4 linked regions of the Homo sapiens genome follow. The protein of the gene in region 2 purifies or fractionates together with the protein of the main gene of each other region. This does not show direct contact. Each region holds a gene or a part of one and is shown on either strand. Other genes may lie near its edges. The genes, in order: FDFT1, SERPINA4, NGLY1 and GNPTG.

The links.
Region 1: the proteins of SERPINA4 (region 2) and FDFT1 purify together in Homo sapiens (affinity purification with mass spectrometry, with the first as the bait; one large-scale study listed by BioGRID). This does not show direct contact.
Region 3: the proteins of SERPINA4 (region 2) and NGLY1 purify together in Homo sapiens (co-immunoprecipitation; one large-scale study listed by IntAct). This does not show direct contact.
Region 4: the proteins of SERPINA4 (region 2) and GNPTG purify together in Homo sapiens (co-immunoprecipitation; one large-scale study listed by IntAct). This does not show direct contact.

What each region holds. Positions count from the first base shown.
Region 1 is NC_000008.11:11,822,507-11,827,635, forward strand, and holds part of FDFT1 (squalene synthase), read left to right. Parts: intron 1-3,517; coding exon 3,518-3,709; intron 3,710-5,129. UniProt on the Homo sapiens protein: Catalyzes the condensation of 2 farnesyl pyrophosphate (FPP) moieties to form squalene. Proceeds in two distinct steps.
Region 2 is NC_000014.9:94,560,077-94,564,241, forward strand, and holds the start of SERPINA4 (kallistatin isoform 2 precursor), read left to right. Parts: upstream 1-1,365; 5' UTR 1,366-1,418; exon of another isoform or gene 1,419-1,639; coding exon of another isoform or gene 1,640-1,733; intron 1,734-3,389; coding exon of another isoform or gene 3,390-3,406; coding exon 3,407-4,055; intron 4,056-4,165. UniProt on the Homo sapiens protein: Inhibits human amidolytic and kininogenase activities of tissue kallikrein.
Region 3 is NC_000003.12:25,772,348-25,777,476, reverse strand, and holds part of NGLY1 (peptide-N(4)-(N-acetyl-beta-glucosaminyl)asparagine amidase), read left to right. Parts: intron 1-5,129. UniProt on the Homo sapiens protein: Specifically deglycosylates the denatured form of N-linked glycoproteins in the cytoplasm and assists their proteasome-mediated degradation. Cleaves the beta-aspartyl-glucosamine (GlcNAc) of the glycan and the amide side chain of Asn, converting Asn to Asp.
Region 4 is NC_000016.10:1,354,031-1,359,159, reverse strand, and holds part of GNPTG (N-acetylglucosamine-1-phosphotransferase subunit gamma precursor), read right to left. Parts: intron 1-5,129. UniProt on the Homo sapiens protein: Non-catalytic subunit of the N-acetylglucosamine-1-phosphotransferase complex, an enzyme that catalyzes the formation of mannose 6-phosphate (M6P) markers on high mannose type oligosaccharides in the Golgi apparatus.

The sequences.
Region 1 (5,129 bases), on a different chromosome or scaffold from region 2:
ATCAATTTCTGCATTTAAGGTGAAGTTAGCCGGGTACTATGGTTTACCTGTAATCTCAGCACTTTGGGAGGCTGAGGTGGGAGGATCATTTGAGCCCAGGAGTTAGACACAAGCCTAAGCAACATAGCGAGACCCCGTCTTTCAAAAAATTAAAAAATGAGCAGGGAATTGGTGGCATGTGCCTGTGGTCCCAGCTACTCTGGAGGCTGAGGTGTGGGAGGATTGCTTGAGCCCAAGAGTTGAAGGTTGCAGTGAGCCATGATTGTGCCACTGCACTCCAACGTGGGTGACAGAGCAAGACACCATCTGAAAGAAAATAAAGTTGAAGTTAAAACTTCTGGCCAAGAACCAGCACTGGTTATGATAGTAACTCATTTTCTGTTGTGCAGATTTATTCAGGAAACTTAATTTTAGGTTGTTGAATAGAAGTTTTGATCAGATAAAATTGAATTAAAAAAAATTTTTTTTGAGACAGGGTCTTGCTGTTATCCAGGCTGGTGTGTAGTGGTGTGATCACGGCTCCCCGCAGCCTCAACCTCCTGGGCTCAGGTGATCCTCCCACCTCAGCCTACCGAGTAGCTGTAACTACAGTGCATGACACCATACCAGGCTCATTTTTGTACATTTTTTGTAGAGAGAGGGTTTTGCCATGTTGCCCAGGCTAGTCTCAAACTCCTGGCATCAAACAGTCCTCCCACTCTGGCCTCTCAAATGTTGGGATTACAGGCATGACCAGCCAATTATTTCAAGGAGTTATTTTTTTTCTTCTACTTTGGGGGAAGATGAATTATATAAGTCTCCATTTTAGGAGTATTTCTACCAAAAGAACTATTATCTTCAAATATATTTTTGGATAGTACTATAGATATACTAATTTTTTTTTAAATTTCTAGTAATTCTTTTGAAGATTTTGTATAGCTGTCCAAAGCCAATTTCTGTCTACCTAATTTCAGCAAGATTTCACTCTTTTCATGTTACTTTTGTCCCAGAACAAATTTCAAGTGCTTTCTCTTCACCTGTGCATTCTTCCCCCTGATTAGTCTCTGGCTTTGTATTACTTTCAGTCAGAGACGACTTTTTTTTTTTGAGACAGGGTCTCACTCTGTCACCCAGACTGGAATGCAGTGGCACAGACAAGGCAGCCTTGACCTTCTGGGCTCAAGCAATCTTCCTTGCCCTCAGCCTCCTGAGTAACTGGGACCACAGGCACGTTGCCACCATGCCTGGCTAATTTATTTTAATTTTTATTATTTTTGAGACAGGGTATTGCTCTGTCACCCAGGCTGGAGTGTAGTGGCATGATCAAGGCTCACTGCAGCCTTCACCTCCTGTGCTCAAGCAGTCCTCTCACCTCAGCCTCCCCATTAGCTGGGACTATAGGTCCACACCACTACACCAGGCTAATTTTTGTAATTTTTTGGTAGAGACAGGGTTTCATCGTGTTGCCTAGGCTGGTCTTGAGCTCCTGGGCTCAAGCGATTCACCTGCCTTAGCCTCCCAGGTGTGAGCCACTACACTCAGCCTTTTAAAATTTTTTACAGAGATGAGGTCTTGCTTTGTTGGCCAGGCTGGTCTAAAACTCTTGGGCTCAAGCAGTCCCCTCTCCACAGCCTCCCAAAATTCCGGGATTACAGGCGTGAACTTCGGTCATTTCCTAACTTTTACCCTTCCTAATGACACTCCAGAGCTTACCTTCTTTACTTTTGCTTCTTAAGTTAACTAATAGACAATTATTGTATGTGGATATTGCATTAAGTTGTCTTAGGATACCCTTTTCAGAGGAGGACAGCTTTTGACAAATTGCTGTCGCGGAAAAAAAAAGTATTTGGCAATTAAGAGTTGCATTTACTGAAATCTCTGTTGAGAGAGGGGAAGTTACGTTGTCTCTAAAAGAAAAACTAAAAAGAAAAGGGGAAGTTTTAGCAAAGTTGTTAAAGCCTGACACTTAAGTCATACTACCTAGTTTTGAACTCTTAGCCCCTGCCACAGACACGGCAGCCCCTTGAACCTTCCTGGGTTCAAGCGAGCCTCCTACTTCAGCCCCCTGAGTAACTGGGACCACTGGCCTGTGTCACTGTGCCTGGCTAATTTTTTTTTTTTCTCACATGGGCAATGTTGGGCAAGTTAAATCGACTTCTTTGTGCCTCAGTTTCCTCATCTGAAATGGAGATCATACTGCTATGTACCTGATACAATGTTTGTGAGGATTGAATGTGCAGAGTTCTTTTTTTCTGTTGTTGTTGTTTTGAGACGGAGTCTCACTCTGTCGCCCAGGCTGGAGTGCAGTGGCGCGATCTCGGCTCCCTGCAAGCTCCACCTCCTGGGTTCACGCCATTCTCCTGCCTTAGCCTTCTGAGTAGCTGGGACTACAGGCACCCGCCACCAGGCCAGCTAATTTTTTTGTATTTTTAGTAGAGACGGGGTTTCACCGTCTTAGCCAGGATGGTCTTGATCTCCTGATCTCGTGATCCGCCCGTCTCAGCTTCCCAAAGTGCTGGGATTACAGGCATGAGCCATCGTGCCCGGCTGAATGTGCAGAGTTCTTAAAACCGTGTCAAGAACATAAAATAGTTATTTGTTCTTTCATATAATGATGATTTTGAGGGCCTGCGGATCTTGACATGTTATCAGATTGGTCAAAAAAAGATTAAACCATAGTTGGTATTGTCCTAGTTCCTGTTACCAGAATATTCCATCTTTCATCGTTGCCTTCTCTCATAGTTTTATGTATCAAAAAGTTTATTGTAAAGCTAGGGCGGGCACGGTGTCTTGGGCTGGTAATCCCAGCACTTTGGGAGGCCAAGGCTGGCAGATCAGTTGAGGTCAGGAGTTCGAGACCAGCGTGGCCAACATGGTGAAACCCCGTCTCTACTAAAAATAAAAAATTAGCTGGATGTGGTGGTGGGTGCTTTAATTCCAGCTACTCAGGAAGCTGAGGCAGGAGAATCACTTGAACCCAAGAGGCAGAGGTTGCAGTGAGTTGAGATTGTGCCAGTGCACTCCAGCCCAGGGGACAAAGTGAGACTTGATCTCAAAAAAAAAAAAAAAAAAAAAGTTATTGTAAAGCTAGACACGGTGGTATTTGCCTACAATCCCAGCTGTTCGGGAAGCTGAGGCAGAAAGATTGCTTGGGTCCAGTAGTTTGAGTCTAACGTGGGCAAATATATGAGACTCCATCTCAAAAAAAAAATAAAAAATAAAAATAAAAAAATGTTTACTAGTTTTTTTCAGTAGCCTTTTATTATAGTAGCAGTACATGTGTATTGTAGAAATTTGGAAAATACAAGTGAAAAATAAAAACATCAAATTCCCGTCAGCCAGAGACTGCTATGAAATGTTTTGAGCACATCCTTCTTGAATGTTTTTTAAATCCTGGTATGTATATTTGTATTTTAAAATCAAAATGCATTCTTACCCATTCTCTTTTGAACCTGCTTTTTTGTAGCTAATGATCTCTAGTGTGTCCATTTCAGTAAAAATTCCATTATTAAAGTGCTTTAAAAATCGTCTCTTACAGTACTGCCACTATGTTGCTGGGCTGGTCGGAATTGGCCTTTCCCGTCTTTTCTCAGCCTCAGAGTTTGAAGACCCCTTAGTTGGTGAAGATACAGAACGTGCCAACTCTATGGGCCTGTTTTTGCAGAAAACAAACATCATCCGTGACTATCTGGAAGACCAGCAAGGAGGAAGAGAGTTCTGGCCTCAAGAGGTAACAGATTCAGGGTATTTTGGGGGAAAATAACTTTAGACATTCTCTGAAAAATCCTTTAACTCTTGTGGTTGCGGGTGACAGAAAAACAAGTCAGGCCTCCCCCAGGCAGCATAAGGGGATGTGGAAAATAGGATAGCTTGACATGAGTTTGCTTCAGGTAGACTGGCTGACTCCCAGGATTCACACCACGTAATCAGTATATTCAAGCCTTGCTGTCCTTGATTTCTTTCAGACGGTCTTTCTCCAAGTGGTGGATATGGTAACAACCCATGTGCACTAGCTTAACAAAAAGTTCTTAGGAATGGCTTTGTTCGGCCTGGCGCAGTGGCTCATGCCTGTAATCCCAACAGTTTGAGAGGCCAAGGTGGGCGGATCACCTGAGGCCAGGAGTTCGAGACCAGCCTGGCCAACATCGTGAAACCCCGTGTTTACTAAAAAATACAAAAATTAGCCGGGCGTGGTGGCAAGGGCTTGTAATCCCAGCTACCTGGGAGGCTGAGGCAGGAGAATCGCTTGAACCCAGGAAGCAGAGATTGCGGTGAGCTCAGATTGTGCCACTGCACTCCAGCCTGGGCGACAGAGTGAGACTCCCTCTCAAAAGAAGAGGAAGGGCTTGGTTCTTCTGCTCAGCCCTGAATCAGTTACTGTTGCTACACAGCTGAGTTCTCTGGCCTCGCCTGGATTACGTCTACACAGTACACACAGAATGGATTTCCCCCAAAGAAAGAATTCTGCAGCAGGAAGGGGAAAGGGATGGCAGGTAGACAAAAACTCCAGGTGTCTGTAATAAGGGACAGGGTCGATCTTTAATTAAAACATGGACAGGGAACAGAAAGCTTTTGATACTGATTTTGTTCAGAAGGAAAGTAGAAAATTTTATGACTGTTCCCTGAATTTATTCCAGCATTTACCTTTTGCTTTCCATAAAAGTGTTTCCTGCAGCCAAGTACTTTAAAGTTTTAAAAAGACGGGTGAGGCTAAGTGTGGTGTCTCATACTTATAATCCCAGTGCTGAGGCCAGGAGTTCAAGACCAGCCTGAGCAACACAGCAAGATACCATCTCTATAAAAAATTGTTAGAAAATGATTCTGCTGAAAGAGCAAAAATAAAAATTAAAGAAAGTAGAAAAAATAAAACTAAATTTAAAAGATTAACTGGGCATGTTGGCATGCACCTGTATTCCTAGGTATTCGGGAGGCTAAGGCACAAGGATCCCTTGAGCGCAGGAGCTCAAGGTTGGATTGAGTTGTAATCACACCACTGCACTCCAGCCTCGGTGGCAGAATGAAACTGTCTCAAGAAAAAAAAAAAGTGACAGAGGGAAACAATATTTGCAATTCATAGAGCAGATACAGGGTTCATATTCCTAATATTAAAAAAAACTTCTAAAAGTTAAGAAAAAGGCCAACTGCCCCAC
Region 2 (4,165 bases):
GCACCACATTCTGCTCTAGCGCGTGGTACAGCAGTAAGCAAAGCAGCAGCTGCTATTCCGGTGGCAGGAAAAGTCTGTCCAAGTGGAGAAGCAGCAGATGCTGGGAAGGAATATGGGCTTCATGTTCAGTGGCCACGGAGCAGACCCTGACTCTGGAATCTGAGCTAACAATGTCTCCGGGCTTACATTTTCTCATGTGTAAAATGGGCCAAGCTTAGTATACCTAGAGTGTATAGGCAAGGGAAAGAGAGAGATGAGTGAGGGAAAGCGAGAATCCACTGAGACAGTAGCTCTCACTTTGCCTGACCTGCTAGCTTCCTCTCTTGTCCTGGTGTTGACCCATTTTGGACCTCAGGCCAGCTGGCTCCAGGGCTGTGCTTGTGCCTGCTCTGCCATCCCCATGTCTACATCGCTCAGGGCTCCCAGCCCACTGTGCTGCTCAGTGGTGTATATTTCACTTACCTTAAGGCCCAACGACTTGGAAACACATCCAGAAAGTCTGCTAGAGGATGCCTGAATGGTCAAGGTCATCTCAGTCAGGGCACCCAGGGCCACATTGCTCCCTGCAGTCCTTCCCCACATAGCTTGAGAAATGGCTGCCCCAGGAGGGTGCAAGGGTGCAAGGGTGCAGGGGTTCACTGATTACTGGGGAGAGAACAAGTTCAATTCCATGGTTAAAGAAGAAAAATGCAAATTGAATACCTGGCCCAAGGAGGTTCCTGGTCCCACCCCATGCCACCCTTGCCCTGGGATGTACTCTCCTTATGGTCTGACCTATGAGATCTCAGTGGACTCTATCCTCAGAAATCACAGAGTCCAGGATTGCAAACTGGAGGCCCTGCTGTGAGGCCCTGCCCACAGGTGGGTCTTGCCTGGCCTGTAGAGAGCTGGCTCTCTCACTTCCACACATCCCCACCATTCCCCACCGTGGCACCATGGAGTCTTCCTTACCTGATCTAGGAAGGCGGCGCTGGAGCTTGCTGCCCCCTGTCTGATCCAGCCCCTCATGTTGTAGGAGGGAGGTGGGCGACTGAAGCTCAGAGAGGGAGTAAATGAGCTCAACTTCACACAGCTAGTGAGGGGCTGGTTGGAGACCAGATTTTCCAAGTGGTTCCCCGGGCCCTCGGGGAGCAGCAAGGGCCAGGCGAACCTCCATGCACTGCACAAACATGAAGAAGTGAACCCTCTTGGGGTTCCCCAGGTGGGAAGTGGGGTGTCTTCTTGGGAGGGGGTGAACCAACTTCTGGTGAGTTTTCCTTGTTGAGGCAATGCTGCACCCGTAGCCTGTTTGTTAATAATTACCTGGTCGGGAGAGAGTGGGTGGTACTGAGAAGGCCTGGTTTGACCAGTCCTCCTGGGCTTGATAAGACAGAGCTGAGACAGCCACCCAGGGGGTCCACTCCAGGACAGACTGTGCCGTGAGTAACCCCCTGAGACAATGGAGACGAGAGACTCTAGAGGGAGGGTGACCAACTGTTCCACTTTGCCCAAGACTGATAATTCTTCTGGGATATATTTTCAGTGCTAAAACCAGGAAAGTCCCAGGCAAGCTGGGACACTTTGTCACTCTTGCTAGAGGTGAGAAATACTCAGGCTAGAAAGGCCCCGACTTAGGGTCCATGGGCACTGGTGGGTGACTATGCCCGGAGACCCAGAAAAGCCTCCCCCAGGGACACACAGCTGGTACAGGGCGGCACTGACTGAGGGCCAAGGTCTTCTGGCTGCCAATCCAGGTGATCTTGGGGAGCTCATGCCGGAGGGGAGGTGTGTCTGTGAGTGATGCGGTCCTATGTATGTTTCTAAATGATCCCTCCAACTGCTGAGTGGAGAACAGAGAGCAGAAAGACTAGGAAGCTTTCTGCAAGGGTCTAGGTCAGGGGTCAACAAACCACAGCTTGTAGGTCAAATCCGGCCCACCGCCCATGAGCTAAGAATGCAAGATGTAAAATATAAATATAAAATATAAGTGATAAGTATAAAAGATAAATATATAAAGCTATGAAAAATCAATAGAAGAACAACATTTTGTGACACAGGAAAATAATATGAAATTCACATTTCAGTGTCCGTAAGTGAAGTTTCACTGAAACACAGCCACGCCTCTTCATGCATGTCCGGTCTGTGGCTGTTTCCAGCTGCCACAGCAGAGTTGGGTAGTGGCAGCAGAGACTGTGTGGTCTGCAAAACCACAGATATTACTATCTGGCGCTTTGCAGAAAAAGTTTTCTGAGCCCTGGTTGAGGATCATAGCAAAAGAGGGGGCGAGAGGCTGAAGAACCTACAGGAGAGTCTAGGAGTTGGAGACCAGCTTGGGCAGCATGGTGAGACCCCAACTCTATAAAAAATTAGCTGGGTGTGGCTGTGCATGCCTGTAGTTCCAGCTACTTGGAAGGGTGCATGCCTGTAGTTCCAGCTACTTGGAAGGGTGAAGTGGGAGGATCACCTGAGCTCAGGAAGTCAAGGCTGCAGTGAGCCATGATTACACCACTGCACTCCAGCTTGGGTGACAGAGTGAGACCCTGTCTCAAACAAACAAACAAACAACCAAACAAACAAAAAAAACCCAACCCTGCAGGTCATGGAAGTGGATTAAATGGATTTTGGGTGGATAGAAGCCTAGAAGCTTTTTGGCCTGACAACCGGATACTGGTGGGACCATTTGATGGGGCAGGAGCAGATTTGGGGGAGAAACTGGAGTATCCTTTCTTGGACAGATGTTCATTATGAAACGGGTACCAATTCTATCCCCACAACTTTGGGCAGGTCACTTATTAAACATCCATGTCCTTGTCTGTACGGGGTAACAATACAAAGACCAGTTCTACTGACCTCTACAGGGGTGGGAGGGTCAAACTAAATGGCTGAAAGTGGTTTGTAAACCATATAAAGCACTCCACAGATGTTTGTGGAACAGACCCTAAAATAAACTCTGAGGATAGCCATCCTCCATGCAAAATCACTGCACTAATGAAATCAACTCATCTGAAAGACAAGTGTGGGAGAAGCAGCACCTGAGTCTGGGGATGTGGGTTCTGGCTGGGATATGTGCTAGGTAGGTGACTTGGGTGAGTCACTTTGGGAGTCTTCATTTCCTGCTCTGTTGGGTGAGAATGGAGTCTAGTGCTGTGCAGAGCTCACACAGGTGGGAAACACAATGACATGATGGACACAAGGAGTGTGCCTTGTAAGTCTAAAACATTGCCATCCAATAGTGTTGCTGTCACCATACATGTGGAAGGTGGTGGGTGTTACATTGCCTTTCACAAGCCCATCTGCAGGAGTTGAGGGTGTCACTCACGATCTCCGGGTGCTGGCCCACTGCCAGCCTTCTCAGTAGGGCCAGGTGTTCTTCTGGGGGAATTTCCTGGGCATTCTCTTCCCTCCCATAGGCCTGAGAGTGCAGAGGATGCATCTTATCGACTACCTGCTCCTCCTGCTGGTTGGACTACTGGCCCTTTCTCATGGCCAGCTGCACGTTGAGCATGATGGTGAGAGTTGCAGTAACAGCTCCCACCAGCAGATTCTGGAGACAGGTGAGGGCTCCCCCAGCCTCAAGATAGCCCCTGCCAATGCTGACTTTGCCTTCCGCTTCTACTACCTGATCGCTTCGGAGACCCCGGGGAAGAACATCTTTTTCTCCCCGCTGAGCATCTCGGCGGCCTACGCCATGCTTTCCCTGGGGGCCTGCTCACACAGCCGCAGCCAGATCCTTGAGGGCCTGGGCTTCAACCTCACCGAGCTGTCTGAGTCCGATGTCCATAGGGGCTTCCAGCACCTCCTGCACACTCTCAACCTCCCCGGCCATGGGCTGGAAACACGCGTGGGCAGTGCTCTGTTCCTGAGCCACAACCTGAAGTTCCTTGCAAAATTCCTGAATGACACCATGGCCGTCTATGAGGCTAAACTCTTCCACACCAACTTCTACGACACTGTGGGCACAATCCAGCTTATCAACGACCACGTCAAGAAGGAAACTCGAGGGAAGATTGTGGATTTGGTCAGTGAGCTCAAGAAGGACGTCTTGATGGTGCTGGTGAATTACATTTACTTCAAAGGTGAGAGTCAGATCATTGGTATATGCTAAATCCACACCACCGCCTCCAACCCACTAATTTGTTGACTGGTTAAATATATTTTTACAAAAATGTAAGTAAAAACGTTGTGT
Region 3 (5,129 bases), on a different chromosome or scaffold from region 2:
GAGGAATGTGGCAAAAGACTTAGACTTTATTTTAAGTGAGATGAGAAGCCACTGGGAATTTTTTTTTTTTTTTTTTTTTTTGAGATGGAGTTTCGCTCTTGTTGCCCAGGCTGGAGTGCGGTGATGCAATCTCAGCTTACCACAACCTTCGCCTCCTGGATTCAAGCGATTCTCCTGCCTCAGCCTCCTGAGTAGCTGGGATTAAAGGCATACGACAGCACGCCTGGCTAATTTTGTATTTTTAGTAGAGATGGGATTTCTCCATGTTGGTCAGGTTGGTCTCGAACTCTTGACCTCAGGCGATCCGCCCGCCTTGGCCTCCCAAAGTATTGGGATTACAGGCGTGAGCCGCCGTGCCCAGCCTGGAAAGTTTTAAGTAGGGAAAAATATTTTTGAAGATTATTCTAGCTTGCTGTAAAGAGAATTCCTGGAGGTGGTGGGATGGGGACAAGGGATGAAGCAGGGAGACCGGTTAGAAAGCTTATTACATTAGTCTAAATAAGAAATGGTAGTGGTTTGTATAAAGTCCATGAAGGCAGGGTTTTTTGTCATTTCTGTTCCCTGTGTTGCTAGCTCCTGGAATAATGCTGGTGCATTACAGATGTTAGGTACTCAATAAAGATTTGTTGAATTAAGTACTGATGGTGGAGATGGAGAGAAGTAGATGGATCCAGGATTTCTTTTTGTGACAGAATCAACAGGACTTACTGGTGATTTAGATGTAAGATATAAGGGAAAGGAAGGAATCGGGGACTTACCTATGTTTTGGTTTAAGCAACTAATTGGATGGGAGTATCATTAATTGAGATAGAGAAGCCTTGGAGAGTAGCAGGTTTTAGGGGAGAAACTAACACCTGTCTTTGGACAATTGTGACCAATTTGCTGTTAAATATTCAAGTAGAGAAGCCAAGTAAGCAGTTGGCTATATGAGTTTACAACCCCAAAGGAGAGATTAGGCAGGGGATATAAATTATGGTGTCATCTGATTATAGATGATACAAAGGTATCCGAACATAAAGAATTTAAAATTCCTTGTTCAAGGAAATGCCAATTTTCAAGATTCAAATTGGTTGGGAAAATTGAGTAAATGACAACGGAAGACTCTACCCATTTCTCATGTCGAAGTGTCACATATTCGATAGAATTAGATTTGTCTTTCATTCAGCAAATATTTGAGTGCCAAGTAGGGTAGCCAGCCATTCCAGTTTGCTCAGTACTGTCCTGGTTTTAGCAATGAAAGTCCCACATCCCAGAAAACCCCTCGGTCTCAGGCAAACCAGTGTTGGTCACTGCAGTGCCAAATAACAGGCCACACTGAGACTTGCAGAAGTATTTGATGCAAATGGAGTCACAGTCTCAGAAAAGATTAACAGGTTTTGATATGACTAATTTATACTTAAAGTTTCTGTTCGGCTTTAGACATCACACCTCAGGACTTGAACTCTACCACCAAAAAGAAAGTTGGTGGACTTTTTAAAGAATAATTATATGAATACATAATAGTTGTACATTATGGGGTACAGGTGATATTTTGATGCTAGCATACAAATGTGTAATGAACATATCTGAGTAATTGGAACATCCATGATCTCAAACATTTATCATCTCTTTGTGTTAGAAACATTCAAAATTCTGTCTTCTAGCTATTTTGAAATATACAATGAATTGTTTTTAACCGTAGTCACCGTATTGTGCTATAGAACATGAGAAATTATTCCTCCTATTTAACTGTAATTTTGTGCCCATTAACCAATCTCTTTCTATTGCCCAGTCCCTTCTATCCCTCCAAGCCTTTGGTAACTGCCATTCCACTCTTCTTTATTTTTTTAAATTTTTATTTAATTTTGTAATATCTTTTTACAATCACTCTTTTCTTCTATGGGATCAATTGTTTTAGCTCCCACATATGAGTGAGAACATGTGTTATTTGTCTTTCTGAATTCTGGCTTATTTTACTTAACATAATGTCCCTCCATTTCCATCCATGATGATGCAAATGACAGGATTTTGTTCTTTTTTATGGTGGAATAATATTCCGTTGTGTATAGATACCACATATTCTTTATCCATTCATCTATTGATGGACAATTAGGTTAATTCCATATCTTGGCCATTGTGAATAGTGCTGCAGTAAACATAGGAATGCAGATACCTCTTCAATATGCTGATTTTGGAAAATGGTGGATAGGAGACAGGACTAACTTGCAGCTCCCAATTGGACTGACAGAACAGTGCCTGGAAACTCACATCGTGAACTTTTGCTCTGAGAAATACTAGAGGAACATACCAGGAAAACCAAAAGAATTCACAGACCCTTTGAAAAAAGCAGCTTGCTGCTGCAAATTCCATGAGACAGAGGAAAACCTGTGAGTGCCCGAAGTGTGACGGGGAAAGTCCACTGGGGAACCTGAAAATCCAGATCACGGGAGAAGGGTTTAACCTTACCTAGAGCTGAAATTAATTTAGAGAGCTGAGTGAAATATAAAAGTAGAACAAGCAGCGAGAAGAGCCTGCAGGCACTCCTGGCCACCAAGGAAGCCATTTCTGACTTTATCTCACAGGGGTCCTTGGGGAGGGCTGCCAGTGGAATTGGGGAAAGACCACAGGGAGAATGAAACTTGCAGCTGAACACGAATTTTCCTGGACTGGGGTGTGTAGGGGAGGTGGCAAATGGGAAATGCAGATACTGCAGATACAAGCACAGAAGCCAAGGCAGACGGAGAGGGGTGAAGCCTGAAAACCCTGATTGCTTTCTCAGTGGGGAGACTTGTAGCCTGGGGCAAAATCTCAACCCTGCGTACACTGCCTGGATATAAACATGGTGCTATTGGTGGAGCATGGTGGGAGTGAGACTGGCCCTTCTGGCTGTGTGGGAGCTGGGTATGGCCTGTTATTGCTGGCTTTCCCCCACTTCCCTGGTGACCTGTATGATGCAGCAGAGATAGCTGTAATCCCCCTGGAAACATAACTCCATTGGCCTGAGAACCACACCCCCATCCGCCACAGTGGCCACAACAAGCCCAACCCAAAGAGAGTCTGCTCTCAGACATGCCTAACCCTGCCTTCACCTGATGGTCTTTCTGAGAGAAAAGACATAATCTCTTGGGAACTCTATGGCCCTGCCCACTGCCTGAGAAACCCAAATACTTATGCAGGCAACCCTAGGGCAAGCTTACATCTTCTTGATACTACTGCAGCTGATGCTGTCTTGAAAGCATCACCTTCTGGCTGGGGGCCAACCAACTGAAACCATTACAGCAACTCATTAAAGAACAACTCTGCCCCAAGAAAAGAGAATACAACAGCTAATTCCACCACCTGTAACATCCTGGCTAACCAGAGGTCTTGAGTCCAATCGCATGACAGCTTTACTACCAGCACACCTGGAATTCGAGAAAACCAACACACTAAACAAAACTGCAACCAAGGTCCCACACAGAGTCCACTTCACTCCCCTGCCACCTCCATCAGAGTAGGTACTGGTATCTATGGCTGAGACTTGAAGACAGATCACATCACAGGACTCTTTGCAGACACTCTCTAATACCAGTTCAGAGCCCAGTAGCTCTACTGGTTTGCTAGACCCAGAAGAGCAATAACAATCACTGCAGTCCAGCTCTCAGGAAGCCCCATTCCTAGAGGAAGGGAAGAGCACCACATCAAGGGAGCACCCCATGGGGCCAAAGAATCTGAACAGCAGCCCTTGAGCCCCTGATCCTTCCTCTGACATAGTCTATACCTAAATGAGGAGGAACCAGAAAAACAATTCTGGTAATATGACAAAACAGGGTTCTTTAACATCCCCAAAAGATCACACTAGCATAGTAGCAATGGATCCAAACCAAGAAGAAATCTCTGAATTGCCAGAAAAAGAATTCAGAAGGTCAATTATTAGGTTACTTAAGGAGACACCAGAGAACTTAAAGAAATTTAAAGAGTGATACAGGATATGGATGAAAAAAAATCTCCAGAGAAATAAATAGTATAAATAAAAAACAATTACAACTTCTGGAAGTGAAGAACACACCTAGGGAAATGCAGAATGCATCGGAAAGTTTCAACAATGGAATTGAACAAGTAGAAGAGAACTTCAGAGCTCAAAGATGAGGCTTTCGTATTAACCCAATCCAACAAAGACAAAAAAGAATTTTAAAAATGATCAAAGCCCCAAGGAAGTTTGGGATTATGTTAAATGACCAAACCCAAGAATAATTAGTGTTCCAGAGGAAGAAAATACATCTAAAAGTTTGGAAGACATATTTGAGGGAATAATTGAGGAAAACTTCTCTGGCCTTCCTAGAGATCTACATATCCAAATATAAGAAGCTCAAAGAACACCTGGGAAATTCATCTCAAAAAGATCATCACCTAGGCACATAGTCCTCAGGTTATCTAAAGTCAAGACAAAGGAAATAATCTTACAAGCTCTTAGGCAAAAGCATCAGATAACCTAAAAAGGAACACCTATCAGATTAACAGCAGATTTCTCAGTAGAAGCCCTACAAGCTAGAAGGGATTGGGGTCCTATCTTTAGCCTCTTTAAACAAAATAATTATCAGCTAAGAATTTTGCATCCAGCAAAACTAAGCTTCATAAATGAAGGAAAGATAGTCTTTCAGACAAACAAATGCCAAGAGAATTTGCCACTACCAAGCTAGCACTACAAGAACTGCTAAAAAGGAGCTCTAAATATTGAAATAAAACCTCGAAATACACCAAATTATAACCTCCTTAAAGCATAAATCTCACAGAACCTATAAAACAATAAATAATGAAAAAAAAACAAAGTATTCACACAACAACTAGCATGATCACTAGAATAGTACCTCACATCTCAGTACTAACATTGAATGTCAGTGGCCTAAATGCTGCACAGAATGTCAGAATGAGTAAGAATTTACCAACCATGTATTCTCTGTCTCTAAGAGACTCACTTAATACATAAAGACTAACATAAACTTAAGGTAAAGGGGTGAAAAAAGATATTCCATGCAAATGAAAACCAAAAGCCAGCAGGAGTAACTATTCTTAGACAAAACAGACTTCAAAGCAACAGTTAAAAAAAGACAAAGGGGGGCATTATTTAATGATAAAAGGGCTAGTCCAACAGGAAAACATTACAGTCCTAA
Region 4 (5,129 bases), on a different chromosome or scaffold from region 2:
CTCAAGTTAAAAATGGGCAGAGAAGCCGGGAATCCCAGCACTTCGGGAGGCCGAGGCAGGCGGATCATGAGGTCAGGAGTTTGAGACCAGCCTGGCCAACATGGTGAAACCCCGTCTCTACTAAATAAAAATGAGCCAGGTGTGGTGGCTCACGCCTGTAATCCCAGCTACTTGAGAGGCTGAGGCAGGAGAATCGCCTGAGCCTGGGAGGCAGAGCTTGCAGTGAGCCAAGATGGCGCCACTGTACTCCAGTCTGGGCCACAGAGTGAGACTCCATCTCAAAAAAAAAAAAGGACAAACACCATAAGCAACTGAAAAGATCCCACATGACTGATCATTAGGGAAATGCAAATTAAAACAACCCTAAGGTACCGCTTCACACCCACTAGGATGGCTGTTAGCAAAAAACAGTGTTGGTGAAAATGTGGAGAAACTGGACCCCTCGTGCAATGCTGGCTGGAATGGGAAACGGTGCAGCCACTATGCAAACAGTTTGGTGGTTCCTCAAAAAGCTAAACATGGAATTCTAATAAGATCCAGCAAAGCTACTCTCAGAAATTGGAAGCAGAGACTCAAATATTTACACCCAAGTTCACAGCAGCCTATTCCCAGGCAGAGGGTGGAAGCCACTCCAGTGTCCATGGACAGATGACGGGTAAACAACAACGTGGTCTGTCCTTGCAGTGGAACAGTCCTCAGCCATATAAAAAGGAAGCACTGAGAGCCTCCAGCCTGGGGGACCTTGGGGACACTGTGCCAAGAGGAGTTGGTCAGACACAAAAGGTCGCACACAGTTATGAGTCACCTATGTGACGTCTATGAATAGCCAAGTTCAGAGACAGCAGAATGGTGGGTGCCGGGGCTGGGGGAGCGGGGCAGCTGGGAGTCAGGGTTTGAAGGGGACAGAGCAAGTTGTGGAGATGATGGTGCTGACGGTTGCAGGGCAGTGTCACCAGCGCCTGGGGGAAGAGGGAAGGCGTGCAGCGTCCCTACCCTCCAGCCAGGCCAGCCCCAGGCAGTGCTAGAGCAAGGGCGTGTACACATCAAGGCCAGTGGCAACTCGTGAGTCAAGCCACAGCAGCCACCCTGTTCTTTAAGCTGGGGAGTCGGGACCTGGCTGGGGACGCCACCTTAACACAGCGCCCACCGAGACTGTCAGCCACGGGCCATCCTCCAGGACTGTGGGGAAGGCTGGGGCTTGGGCCGTGGAGGCAGGGAGGGGACTGGCCCCCATCCCCGTCCCCTGAAGGGCCTGCGCTGCAGCAGCAAGTGCACTGGTTAGAGGAGGACGCCCCAGACTGATGTTTCAAACTCTCTGTAGTTTTACCGTATTAATAATAAAGTCGAGGCCAGGCGCGGTGGCTCATGACTGTCATCCCAGCACTGTGGGAGGCCGAGGCGGGCAGATCACGAGGTCAGGAGATCGAGACCGTCCTGGCTAACACGGTGAAACCCCGTCTCTGTTAAAAACACAAAAAATTAGCCGGGCATGGTGGCGGGCGCCTGTAGTCCCAGCTACTCAGGAGGCTGAGGCAGGAGAATGGCGTGAACCCGGGAGGCGGAGCTGGCACTGAGCCGAGATCGCGCCACTGCACTCCAGCCTGGGCGACACAGCACTCCAGCCTGGGCGACACAGCGACACTCGGCTCTAATAATAATAATAATAATAATAATAAAGTCGAAATACACACGAGGTGCTGGGTGACTGTTCCCTGGGAATCTGGCCAGCCCAGGAGCCAGATGCCACACTGGGGCCACCCTCAGCCTGGCCCCCGCCCCCGGAGGGCAGAGGCTAATGCCACTGAGACCTCTGGGGTGCTGGCCCGGCCTGGCCTTCTGTTCCCTGACATTCCACTCACCCCTGGGGCTGTCCCCTCCCAAGACAGATGGAGACCAAGATGGCCAGGCTGCCCTGCTCAGGGGACAGGGGCTGTGGATATAGAAAGGTCCTGGTCCTTCCTTGTCAAATACCATCTGGGTGGCCCCTACTCCCAGGCTCACCCACTGTCCTCCCAGCCTGACCGCTGGGGGCTCTACCTCAGCCCTGTCACACCTGCTGTCCCACAGCCTGGGGTGCTTGGGCTTGGTCCCTCCAGTCTGGCCCTAGGGCCCTGCCCAACAGGCACATAGGGAAGCCTTTGGAGCCATCCCAGAGACCCTGATGTGTCCCTCACCCATCTGCCACTCAGACTCCTGCCCGCAGACCGCCACCCGCACACTCCCGCCCGCAGACCCCCGCCCGCACACTCTCGCCCGCACACTCCCGCCCGCAGACCCCCGCCCGCAGATTCCCGCTCTCACACTCCCGCTGGGAGGGTGGCTGGTCAAGCTCCTGTGTCCTGGGAACTCACGTTCCCAGGCTTGCCCCAGGCAGACACTGCTTGGAGACACCCCAGGAGGGGCGTGGGCGCCGGGCTTAGCTCTGCACCTGCAGGGCCATCCGTCTAAACAGGACTGTGTGAGGGCAGCGGGGCCTGGCCTGGCTCCCCAGCTGGGAGGAGGCCTCTGCCTGGGTGCTGTCCACAGCTTCAGTGGACTCCTACTGGCTGAGGTGCAGCCTCCCGCAGGGGATGGTACCACAAGCCCCCAACTGGCAGTGCCCAGTACCCCAGGTCCTCTGCTGCTGGCCCACACCAGAACCCCGGCCACGGCCCCTCCCCTCCGCCTGGCCCTCAGGTTTCAGCAGCCTGTCCTCCTGAGACAGGTGGGGGCTGGCCCCTCCACGCCTCTTGGGCCAGACACAGCCATACCTGAGCGGGAGTCTCTACCCCCAAATACCACCACCCCCAAATGCCACCACCCCTGCCGGGAGGCTTCTCCTCTGCTCCTGCTTCACCCGCACGTCCCCTGCAGGCTCCGTGTTCACGGCCTGCATGGCCAGGACACTCGCCGGTGCCCTTGGCTCCCGCGGGCCCAGGTGGCCTTACTGCCAGCTGTCCCTGCACCCGAGGCCACAGCTCAAGGCCCATCAGCTTGGCTGAGCCTGGACTCCGTTTCCCCTCTGCCCCGGTCAGGCTTCGGTGGGCAGCACTCCCCCTAGGGCTGCGTCTCTTGGTGACAATCCCTTCTCAAGGGTGGTCCTCCCTCCCACGCTGCTCCCTGGCCCGGCCCCACACCTGGTCCCAGTACCCTCCCAACCTCCACAACCCCCACACGCCACCAAGAACTTCACCGGGGACCTCACCCTCACCCTCCGGCCTCACGCACCCCCTGGTGAGTCCTGTGCCCACCGTGACCCTCTCCAAGCACCAGGGACTGCCTGGCAGACCCAGCCCGGCCCCAGCCGAAAGCAAGCTCCCAGCCTGACCCCTGCAACTCACATGCTGGGAGCCGCACTTGCCATGGCTTCTCTAGCCAGGATCCCGGGGCCACTCTACTCCTCCCCCGCCCCCTCCCCAGATCCAGGACCCTGCCAAGGCCCCAGAGTCCTGCCCAGCTGGCCGCTCCCTCCCACCGCCACCGAGGCAGAGCTCCCTCCTGGACAGTGTGCTGGGCTATGCTGGACTCTGCTGGGCGCTGGCAGGACCACCACACTGACCGTGCCCCATTCCCTCTCCATGCCACAGCGGGACACTGTCTCCAAATCACAGACCTACCAACCTCTGCTCCTCCTGCTGTCAAGGGACGAGGCTCCCGACTCATCTGGTGGAGGCCATGGAGCTGCCCACTGCCCAGCCCAGCCCCACCAGCCTCGGCCCTGGCAAGCCCACCCCTTCCTTCTCCTTGGCAGACACTCTTCTGCGGGGACCTTCTGAGCCCTAGGCCACAATCACCACGCCCCTGAGTTTCTCAGCCTGATTATCTTTCTGCTCAGCTCATTCCACAGACCACACTCTCCTACCCACTGCACACAATCCGCCTCACACGTTGATGTTGAAGGAGCGCTACATCAAAGACAGAAAAAACAAGTAGAATATCCACACCCGACCCCACAGACGCAGGAGAGGATCCACACCCGACCCCACAGACGCGGGAGACGATCCACACCCGACCCCACAGACGCGGGAGACCATCCACACCCGACCCCGCAGAGGCGGGAGACCATCCACACCCGACCCCGCAGACGCGGGAGACCATCCACACCCGACCCCGCAGACGCGGCAGACCATCCACACCCGACCCCGCACATGCGGGAGACGATCCACGCCCCACCCCGCAGATGCGGGGGAGTATCCAGGCCCCACCCCACAGACGCGGGGGACTTTCCACGCCCGGCCCCACCCCACAGACGTGGGAGACAATCCACGCCCGGCCCTACAGACGCGGGGGAGTATCCACGCCCAGCCCTACAGACGCGGGGGACTATCCACGCCTGACCCCACAGGCGCAGGAAAAAATGGTCTGGAGAAAAACACCATCAACAAAACAAAAAGATCAGGAAACTGGGAAACAAATGTGCCACTTACATCCAAAGGTGGGAAGAGAACTGTTCCAAATTAAAACACTAAAGACACATAATGAACCAAATGCACATGTGAACCTGACTGGCCCTGATGTGGGGATGGGGGTGGGAAAACTAGAAGAGGTATTCTTTTCTAAATTTTTATGGGTTTTTTTTTTTTTTTTTTTTTTTTGAGACGAAGTCTTGCTCTGTCACCCAGGCTGGAGTGCAGGGGCATGATCTCAGCTCACCGCAGCCTCCGCCTCCTGGATTCAAGCAATTCTCCAGCCTCGGCCTCCCAAGCAGCTGGGATTACAGGAGGATACCACTATGCCCGGCTAACTTTTGTTTTTGTGGTTTTTTTTAGTAGAGACGGGGTTTCACCATGTTGGCCAGGCTGGTCTCGAACTCCTGACCTCAAGCGATCGTCACACCTCAGGCTCCCGAGCAACATGCACGCACCACCACGACCAGCATATTCTGTTTTCTTTCCAGGACTCTCACCTCCAAAAAGACGTGGTCCCATTAGCCAAGGCTGCCTCTCTCCTACTGGAAGGGGTTCGGTCGGGAACTGCGCTGTTACACAGTGGCCTGCCTCCTCCCCAGCTTCTTGGGATAGGTGGTGGCCCGACTCCAGCACTTCAGGCCCTGGGAAGCCACCATCCCATGGCTTCTGAGCCGCAGGGAAGTGAGCCTAACCCCAGGTGCGCCATCACGCCCAGCCACACAACAAAAAACTTAAAAAGAT